Linked DNA regions of Homo sapiens. The protein of the gene in region 2 purifies or fractionates together with the protein of the main gene of each other region. This does not show direct contact. Each region holds a gene or a part of one and is shown on either strand. Other genes may lie near its edges.

The links. Proteins that work in one complex are often made in the same cells at the same time.
Region 1: the proteins of GPR39 (region 2) and HEATR3 purify together in Homo sapiens (co-immunoprecipitation; one large-scale study listed by IntAct). This does not show direct contact.
Region 3: the proteins of GPR39 (region 2) and TRDN purify together in Homo sapiens (co-immunoprecipitation; one large-scale study listed by IntAct). This does not show direct contact.

The regions. Positions count from the first base shown.
Region 1 is NC_000016.10:50,100,470-50,103,969, forward strand, and holds part of HEATR3 (HEAT repeat-containing protein 3), read left to right. Parts: intron 1-1,789; coding exon 1,790-1,966; intron 1,967-3,500. UniProt on the Homo sapiens protein: Plays a role in ribosome biogenesis and in nuclear import of the 60S ribosomal protein L5/large ribosomal subunit protein uL18 (RPL5). Required for proper erythrocyte maturation.
Region 2 is NC_000002.12:132,423,305-132,426,804, forward strand, and holds part of GPR39 (G-protein coupled receptor 39), read left to right. Parts: intron 1-3,500. UniProt on the Homo sapiens protein: Zinc-sensing receptor that can sense changes in extracellular Zn(2+), mediate Zn(2+) signal transmission, and participates in the regulation of numerous physiological processes including glucose homeostasis regulation, gastrointestinal mobility, hormone secretion and cell death.
Region 3 is NC_000006.12:123,546,451-123,549,950, reverse strand, and holds part of TRDN (triadin), read left to right. Parts: intron 1-1,338; coding exon 1,339-1,497; intron 1,498-2,578; coding exon 2,579-2,611; intron 2,612-3,500. UniProt on the Homo sapiens protein: Contributes to the regulation of lumenal Ca2+ release via the sarcoplasmic reticulum calcium release channels RYR1 and RYR2, a key step in triggering skeletal and heart muscle contraction.

The DNA.
Region 1 (3,500 bases), on a different chromosome or scaffold from region 2:
AGAAGAAGTCATATCAAGTTGCTTTATTGAGTCATATTATTAGAATATACCCTTTGGCTTGATCTAACTATGTGTATTAATTAGGTAAGTATTTGAAAAGTTGAGCCACATTTTACAATTTAACGTTATTCCAGAGGTACTTTTTTAAAAAAATAAATCTGTCTTTAGTGAAAGGGCAAATTCAGAATTTTTAAAGATGCCTTCTGCCTTTGCTGTTGCATCCAATGTATGCATGTTACATTCTCCTGCTGATGAATGAACAATCCACACCATTTTCCTTGCACACCAGGCAACATGCATTCTGAAAAATACAACACAGTTAATTAATTCTAATACCACTCCATAAATTTTAAGCAGCAACCCTGGTAGTGCCAATATACTAGCAATTCCCTCAGCATATTTGCTCTTACCACTTAGCACAGTTGCTCACAAACTGCACTGTTAGGAGTACAGCGTCACTAGTAATTAAAAGGACAGTCATAGTAACATTACACTTTGGTGTGCTAATAATTGCTGAAGTGTGAGACTAGTGGATAATAAACTCATTATTATAAAGTACCTCTTAACCTGCTAAGAACTTTACAATGATGACTGATGTTTTTAAGAATCTATTTTTGAAAAATGATACTTGCAAAGCTTTTTTTTTTTTCTTTTTTTTTCTGAGATGGAGTCTCAGTCACCCAGGCTGGAGTACAGTAGTGCAGTAGTGTGATCTCGGCTCACTGCAACCTCCGCCTCTGGGTTCAAGCAATTCTTCTGCCTCAGCCTCCCGAGTAGCTGGGATTACAGGTGCCCACTACCACACCTGGCTAATTTTTGTATTTTTAATAGAGATGGGGTTTCGCCATGTTGGCCAAGCTGGTCTTGAACTCCTGGGCTCAAGCGATCTACCTACTTCAGCATCCCAGAGTGCTGGGATTACAGGCATGAGCCACTGCACCCGGCAACAGTTATTTCTTAGTGTGTCTAATTCCTGGTCCATATTCATAATTTTACAGTTGCCTCAAAATTATCTGTTTACAGAGAGCTTGTTTACACTGCTGAAGTCCACATGTTATGTTTCCTGTGGGGTCTTCTCTTTCTCTCTTAATCTTGAACAGTTCCTCCCCGGCACCACGTGGTTATTCTCACCTCCTGGATCAGTTGTCCAATATAGTGTCCAAAACCTTCTGGATTTGTCTGATTGCTACCTTGTGGTGGTAAATTTGTTTTTTTATCCTTGTATTTCCTACAAACTGACAGTTAGATCTACAGACTAGATTCGATTCAGATCAGTCCTATTTTACGTTTTTTAGAGATGAGGTCTTGCTCCATTGCCGAGGCTGGTCTTGAACTCCTGGGCTCGAGCGACCCTCCCGCCTTAGCCTCACAAAGTTCTGAACTTACAGGTGTGAGCCACTTGCAACTGGCCTAAAGTGTTTTTCTTATGCTTTTAAAAGCAGATTTTTTGTTGTTGTCGTTGTTGTTACAGATAATATTTCTATGCATCTTGACATCATGGAGAAATCCTTTTTGAGAGAGGTAGAGGGGAAAATTTAGTGATTTCCAAAATCATACATCATTTATGGATTTTAATTCACTTTATTTATGAATATAAACTATAATATGTTTAATTTATCTTGCTTATACTTGGTATGTTTATAAGTATTTAAGTCTAATCTCTTGAAGTTTTAATTTTTCCCTGGCATTTGTATATAAAATAGTATGCATGAGTTATTGCCACATTCAAAGTTGGTACTTGTTTTGGAGACTGGTGTTAGTCATACTAAATGTGTTTTGTTGTTTCCAGAACATTGGGTGCTTTCTGCTTGAAGTTACCACCAAAGATCCTTCCCTTGTGGTAGCAGGAGAAGCTTTGGATGCCCTCTTTGATGTTTTTGCAGATGGTAAAGAAGCCGAAAGAGCCTCGATTCAAATTAAATTATTATCTGCTCTGAAAGAATTCCAGCCGGTCTTTAAAATGAAGGTTTGTAGCCATTTAACTTATAAATACATAAGTCTGAACATTCTGTGGGGACAAGGGTGTGTGTAGTTACCGCTGTGCAACTCAGAAGCATGTGCATGACGAATCCCCATATGTAGCACAGCATCCCCAGTACTTTGTAAAATGTTCGTTGACTGAGTCATAGCTCAACAGTGTGACTACTGAATCATTGAAACTGAAGCTAAAATGGTATCTGACAAGTTCTTCTTTTTTTAAGTTTAGTAATTTTGACAATGCTTCATATATGTCAGTATTATACTCTGTATTTTGCAAAGCACTTTCATACACATTTTGCATTTATTTAATTTTACTTTTTTTTGTTTTTTTGAGACAGAATCTCACTCTGTCGCCCATGCTGGAGTGCAGTGGTGCGATCTTGGCTCACTGCGACCTCCCCTTCCCCAGTTCAAGTGATTCTTGTGCCTCAGCCTCCCAAGTAGCTGGGATTACAGGTGTCCACCACATCACCCAAATAATTTTTGTATTTTTAGTAGAAACGGGGATTCGCCTTGTCATCCAGGCTGGTCTCGAACTCCCAACCTCAGGTGATCTGCCCACCTTGGCCTCCCAAAGTGCTGGGATTACAGGTGTGAGCCACTGTGCCCAGCCATATTGTTCTTAAAGGTTACAGTCCTTTAAATTTCTGGATAAAGAGCTTGCAAGATAAGAAAAAAATATCCCCTATTTCCCTGCAGCTTCAAGGAAAGCAGATATATTAATAGTTAGAGTCATCAAACTCTGCAGAAGCAGGTGCTTAAAAAAGGTTAAACAGTGAACTGGGAAAATAACCCCTGACTTCTGAAAGGTCTTTGTTCTGATTGATTTTCCTACTCAGTATGTATTGCTGTGGTAATAACATTTGTTTTTCTTTTATCAAAGGTATAAAGCTCTAATGAGATTTCTTCCTAGCCAGAGGCTAGCCTGTAGTTATTTATGTGAAACTCTTTTTTTTGCTAAATGAAGCCACAATTTGTGTTAAAGGCTATTCAGTGTATATTTAGCTGCAAAATGCATTTATGTACAATCAAGAACTTCTCTTGAGCAGTGTTTCTCAAAAGTGCCCTCCTTGTATCAGCAGCATCAGCCCTTGCCTGATAACTTATTCAAAATGCAGGTCCTCGGCCCCAACTCCTGACCTACTGAGTCATAGACTCTGTGGATGGGCCCACCAGTCTATTTTTCAACAAGCCTTCCAGATGATACCGTTGCACACTAAAACCTGAGAGCCACTGCTCTAGACTAGAGGTGAGATCAAACTCAGATTCCATACAATTGATATAAAAAACCACAGGCCAGGCGCAGTGGCTCACACCTGTAATCCCAGCACTTTGGGAGCCCCAGGTGGGAGGATCACTCGAGTCCAGGATTTCAAGACCAGCCTGGGAAACATAGCAAGAACTTGTCTCTACAAAAAAATTTTTTTAAGTTAGCCATTAAGTGGTGGCTCATGCCTGTCATCCCAGCTACTCAGGAAGCTGAGCAGGAGGATCGTGTGAGTGCAGGAGTTGGAGGCTAC
Region 2 (3,500 bases):
TGGTGTCTCTTGCTCTTCTTATAAGGATGCTGGTCTTATCAGATTAGGGCCCCACCCTTACAACTTTATTTTACCCGAATTACCTCCCAAAGGCCCAATCTCCAAATACAATCACACCGGGGCTTAGGCCTTCAACATGTGAATTTGCAGGGGACACAGTTCAGTTTATAACACCCCTTAACTGCCTTATTCCACTGGCTCCCCTTCAAGTTCTTCAAGTGACCATGACTGGCTCTCTTCCCCCATGCTGCCTGTGTATGGGTTGTTTCCTCTGCCTGGCATGCTTTTCTATCTTACTCTATTCTCTACCTGCTCCCCACTTCCATCCCCTTCCCCAGGTTAATATCTTTCTCCTCTCTCAGATCTCCCCAGGGAAACTGGCCCATCCTCCCTGACTTCATTAAACCTCCCACAAAACAAGACTCACTGTTGTCATTTTACATTTAATTGTGCAATTACTCGACTGATGTCTGTCTTCCTTCTAATTCCTTGTGGATAGGTGCATGCCCTAATTTCCCTCAACACTGTACCTCATTCCAGCATAGTGTCTAGACATAGTAGGTAATGAATATTTGTTGACTGAACAAATGAATGAATGAGCCTCAGCTTGGAATTGAGAAGCAATGTTCTGTTTTCCCTTGGGCATGCATTCGTATAGAGGTTTATCATTCCTCAAAAGTGTTCTGGTTCATCTGAACCAAAGATGCTATCTTTGAAAGGGTTATGATTCCTCTGAGGCCTCTGAAGTCAAACCAACATGCAAAACATTTAAGATTTGCTTGCCCCTGAGCAAATGAACACTATGTGCTAATCAGACCCTGAATGTTAGCTTTAACCATGTATATCTGCCAGAAGTAACCGTGAGATGAAAGTGACTAGGGTGGTGAATGGTCCTTGTTAAAATCTATTGAACAAGATGTTAAATGCAATGATACAACTCTACACATTATTTCTTAGCAGGCTCTTTCACCACTTTTTAACAAGGGGTCCTCAAGGTAATGAGGATACAGTGGGGGTGACATTTTGAAAATATTAAACCATGTGTTTATGTCTCCACCTTAAATTGCATCCACTTGCAGCCATCTCTCTCAAGAGTGAGCCACACTTATCACCCCAGGGTAGGAATAAGCAGCTACTGCCTGGGACAAAGGTGTTGTGGATCCATCCTGGGTCCAGAGGATGGAATTACTGACCTCTTTAGCTGGGCAATTATCTTAAAAGCCAGACTTTGTGAAGGATGAAAAAGGATTGCCTAACTTCATATCTCTCCCTTTAATGTATCATGAGCCCAGCCTAGTGGACTGGATCAGCCAGTTCCAGATGAAACCATAGCTAAGGGGTTTGGAATTTATCCTTGGAAGCCATTGCAGGGTTTTAAGAAGTTAAACAGCACAGTTGGATTTCTAGTGCTGCCCCTAGAGTGACAGCATTTGTTGCATTCCAATTTGGGTCAAAGTACAGGCCTGGCTGTGTTTATAGAATAAAAAAACAGACAACCCTTCATTGGAACACAGTTCTGGCAGAGCAGCTGACACTGGTGAGTTCTCCTTTCCATTAGGCAGACCTCTGGCCCTTGGTTTCTCCAAGTCTTGCTGCTGCCACTGTCCTCCATGGCCAGACAGTGACTGCTTCCATTCAGCAACTCCCACTTTCCCAGCACGGAGGCCCAAACCGCCCCCATGTTGCTCAGGCCCTGATTAGGAGGTGGCCCTAGGGAGCTAAACTAGGTCACAGTAGCTCTCACCTGTCATCTCTATTGCTCAATGGTCTATTCGTTCTTCAACGACAATCTCCAGCTACGACCAACTCATATATCTCCCATGACAAAACTTCCTACCACTTACACTAGCATTCTGCATATGATATATCTCAGTGCCTCCCACTTCTTCCATGAAGCCTTCCTGGACTACGACAGCCTATACTGATGTTCCTATGCATGGTGAGCCATCTTAGACATTTCTCAGAAGGGGGCACAGATGATGTCTCTCGACTATATTGGAACTCCCTAAGATCAGGGACCCTTCACTGTTGTACATCTTCAACCTTCCTTACTGGGTTGGGGGCAGAGTAGCCATGCATTGCTTGAGAGATTGATGGATTGAAGTTCTCTGACAGTGGCTGCTGCTCCTGAAATGGAGGAAAAGCACCCTCACTGTGATCCTCAGGCAGCTCTCTTGGCTCTACCTTCCTTTCCTTCTTTCCCTGTGCTAGGCAGAATTCTGAAATGGCCTCCAAAATGCCTGGTCCATAAGGTATACGTATCTTCTCCCAGTTATTCAATCAAACACTAATCTAGTGCTGCAAGGAAGGAAAGTAATTAAGTTCCCAAATCTGTTGACCTTAAAATAGGGAGATTTTCTGTGTGGATTTAACCAAGTCACATGAGCCTTTAAATCTGGGTCTAGAGGTCAGAGGCAGGAGAACTAAGAGTCAAAGCATGAGAGGCATTTGACCAGGGAGAAATTCTCTGTTGCTGGCTTTGGAGATGGAGGGAGCTGGCAGAGAATATAGGTAGGTTCTAGGAGCTGAGCACCAGCAAGAAAATGGGCCCTGAATAAGCTTAGAGGTAAAATTCCCCCCCAGAACTTCTAGAAAAGAATTCAGCCTGGCCTACATGTTGAGAACCCAGGCATACCTTGCCTGGATCTCTGATCTACAGATTTGTGTGCTAATAAATAGGTGTTATTTTAAGCCACTAAATTTTTGATAATTCACTATGTACCAATAGAAAACGAATGGATTCACTGAACTCTGCTGAAAGGAGCTCCCAGGTAAACACATGGCCTACCTTAGTTATAACTTCCAAGACAGGTTCAATCTCCAGAAGCTTCTCTTTGAAAAGTCTCACCTTCCAAGAATTGCCTTTGGCCCAGCCATTCACAGATCCACCAACCACTTGTTGGTCACCTGCTCAGTGCTCAGTGATCTGGAAGTTTAACAAGATCCAGGGCACCATGGAATGTTCACTGGACTTTTAAACTCTCGTTTGGAGAATTACAAAATTTGTGGGTTTGAGTCCCACTGGCTGGATTTTCAGAATGCTGATGCCTTGATAGTCAGAAAGGAAAACAGTATTGAATTGATCTTATAATTATCATCCTTTTGGTAGCTCTATTTCGTCATAGCCTGGCAATGACTAGGCGCTGCATAAAGGTTTGGTGGATAAGCTGATGCCTAGGCAGCTCTGCTGCTTTCCAGAGTCCTCCTCACCAGAAGGGAGATGCCTGTACCCCTCATCATTTGGCTTCAGATGGAAAAAGTGTGTCAGGGAGGAAGCCAACCCTGGTGCTGAAGCAAGTCTGAATAACAGAAATGTCTTGGGCTAACAGACTTTATCATTTTCTGATTTTAGAGCCTTTCCCGATTTAGAAACTTGACAAAAAGTCTTGTTTGTACTTACTGAGTGTAAGAGCCATTCTGGCAAGCAGAGGGTTTAACACTCAGGCCACTGCTTTGCACACCGCAAAGGTGGCTAGGTAGTTGGAGAGCAGTGGTGTTAC
Region 3 (3,500 bases), on a different chromosome or scaffold from region 2:
GTCCTCCCCCAGCTCAGAGCATTTCCTTCCTTCATTCTAGTTTCTCACACCAAAAACTTAGAAGTTATCCTGGAATTCTGTCTTTCTCTCACATCACAGCCACACTGGAAGCTTCTACTATTAATTCTGTCATTGAAATACATTCAGAATCTGATTGCATCTCACCACACACACTGTTACCACCCTGATAGAAATCATGATCATCTTTCTCTTGGATGATTTCAGTTGGCTTCATACTCATCTCCCTGTTCCCAGCCTGGCACCCTTTCAAACTTCAACACAGTAAAGGAAGTCAAATCACTTCATCTTTCTGCTCAAATCTTCCAATGACTTACTATGTTAGTCACAGTAAAAGCCTAATTAGATGTACTTAACCTTTAGGTAGTATAATACATTGATATAATTCTCATCTCTTAAATATATCAAAGAGAGAAAAATCTCTGAAAAGCTAAAATAGTTTTTAAAATTAAGGAAAACACAGCTCTAAAATTTAATTACAGCTTGATAAAAAATCAGATGCAATTTATACCATATTTCTAGATAGATCACCTCTGTAATCACATCCTAAAGGCTATGCTTGCCTCTTCAGAGCAGTTTTCATATGATTGGAAGAATAAAATTTTGGAAATCCCTAATATATTTGTTTGCATTTTTTTATGATTCAATCTTTCATTTAGCAAACATTTTATATCTCCTAGGACATAGAAAAGGGAAGACTTATAGATTCTATCCATTGAAGTTACTAGCAGTTCAAATACTTTTTTATTTCATGTACAGGGATGACTAAGATAAATCCAACCTATTCCAACTAGAGCTTGATATGATCACTAACTTGACTATTCCAGATTCTTCCTGTGGTATCACAAATTAGAATAAATGGGCCTATCAGTCTTAATTTAGCCACAACTACCTTAGTCAACTTGCAGAACTTGTTATTTGTCTGAAAACTTACAGAGTCATCTTTTCTATAATGCTGTCCCATACAATATGTGCTGAAATTATTTCTTCCATTCCTGAACATCCATAACATAGGGTTTATTTGCACTCTGGGTAACATAAATACACATTATTTTAATTCATTCCTAATTTTTTTTCCAGTGCTAACTCTTATTTGGATTATAAACTTCCCAAGGGCATTTTCTTTCTTGGCATGCATGCATATTATAGCAAGATGAAGTTTCTATTTCTGCGCAAAAAATTGTAGCCAGGAGATATTTAGAATGTTGAAATTGACATATTCTTTTTGTCAAAACAACAAATCAGTAAAAACAGCTTTTCTTAAGTTATTTGGAAATGATCACAAACTTTTTCTTTTTTTTTTTTTTTAATTACTTTTAGCAAGCTCTATTGCCAAGATTGGCTCAGATCCTTTAAAACTGGTACGTGATGCTATGGAGGAAACCACGGACTGGATCTATGGCTTCTTTTCTTTGTTATCTGACATCATCTCATCTGAAGATGAAGAAGATGATGATGGTGACGAAGATACTGATAAAGGTACAAAGAACATAGAGATATATCTAACTGCTAGGAGCAACATTAAATATGTATTATAGTGGCTTGCCTCAGTTTAAATTCAAATGAGCACTTGGGTCAAGCTAAACCAAAATGAATACACTTCTGACTGCTAAAAGCATATCAACAGGCTGCCAAACACAGTAAATTGTTCTTTATTTAATTTTCATCTTATAGCTTATCTACCATTATGGCAAAGATGTCAAAATTAAATGTTAATATTAATGTAGCATTACAGCAAAGGGAGTCTCATTATGCTCTGCTATAAAACCACAATACAAACTCACATTTATATGCTTCTTTGGAAAAAATAGTTATTTTTCAAGTTTATCTCTAGGAAGATTAAAATAAAAACAGTAAAACTAAAAATACATATAAGTGTTTTATACACATATGTCATATTTATAGTCAAATAGCAGAAAGCAATCTTACTAAAAGTACAATCAAAAGAGTAAATTTATTGGACCAAATGGTGGTGTAGAATAGAAGGACACATTCTAAATGTCCTAACAATTATGCAACTAACCTATGTGCTCTCTCATATATATTAATGAATAAAAGGAAATAGCCATCTCAAACCACATAAAAGCTGCCATTGAATGAGTATGAAAAGAACAAAGCACTGTGATTCCATCTATTAGATAACACTTTTTAGGGTCAGTCTTAGTCATCAGAAATCATGTATTCAGCCTTGACTACCAGGAAAGCTTTTATTATTAGAGTATTTTTATAACTTTTCCTGAAATTATATTTGTTTTGGCCCCAGTAAGAGTTCAACATGAACAATAGAGAGTTGAAATTAATATGATATATAACCTATAATGTATAATTTGGATCACTGCCACAATTTTATTGAATTCATAAAAATGAAACAATCTTATATAAATGTATATAAACAAACTTTATACTTAAAAACTGGAATTTGGGAAGCAAAGTAATGTAAAGACTATGATTGTTAAAACTAATAGATTTTTTTAAATAAACAAAAGGGGAAAATAATGATGTCATATTATTCTATGCTAAAATATTTTCTAACTTTGTTTTTCTTTTAATCTTGGTCTAGGAGAAATAGATGAGCCTCCCTTGAGAAAAAAAGGTTAGTTGTTTTCACCTTTGATAATAATTATTTTTCTCTTATGGTAATATTGGTTTTCAGCATGGTTCAAATATATTTTACTTATTTTAATATAAAGGTTTTGTTTAATAATTAGGTCAAGATTTATAGTCAGAAAAAAAATACTCAATTTCTTTTCCAATGAAGGTGATCTCACTACTTTTCTGTTGATTATTTTTTAAATGCCTTATTCAGTAGATTTGTATGGATTCATTTATACACAGACCAATATGAGCTGGAATTTGAGGAATGAGGGGAGAATTCTGTAGCCTTAGAAATGGCCCAGAAAATGACACCCATGATTTATTCTCACCATGGTCAGATTTATTGATTTTAAATGTTTATTCTTATTCTTTTCCTTTTATTTTTTTTGCCATCATTATTTTGCATGTTAGGTGATGACTATGGGCCAGGACAACAAGACGGTGAGGGACATAACAGCCTAGGAGGCAAAGGCATATCCAGTTGGTATGTGTGATGTGTCACTGTCATGGAGTGGAGTTACCTGGATGTGCCTGGATGTGCTGTAGAGGAATTACTTGCAGGAATAGATAAGGTGACTGAGTGAAGTGGTCACAACCTGAATGATAAGAACGATAAACCTAGGACAAAGGAGGACAGCAATGGGGCAGGAATTTCAGAAGACAGAGATTTTGACAGGAAGGGGTAGGAACTGCATCTGGAAGGGGCACTGGGGAGCAGGTAGTACCATCTTGAGGTACATTTGTTGTGAGAAAACAGCCAACATTCAAGCCAGACTTAAAACAATTGCAGTGTTTTAGTTACTGCTACACATGGGCAGGCTGTTGAGGGTTTACCCAGGAAGATAACCCTGGCTTCTGTTGCTCTCTCCTAATACCTACTGTGGATT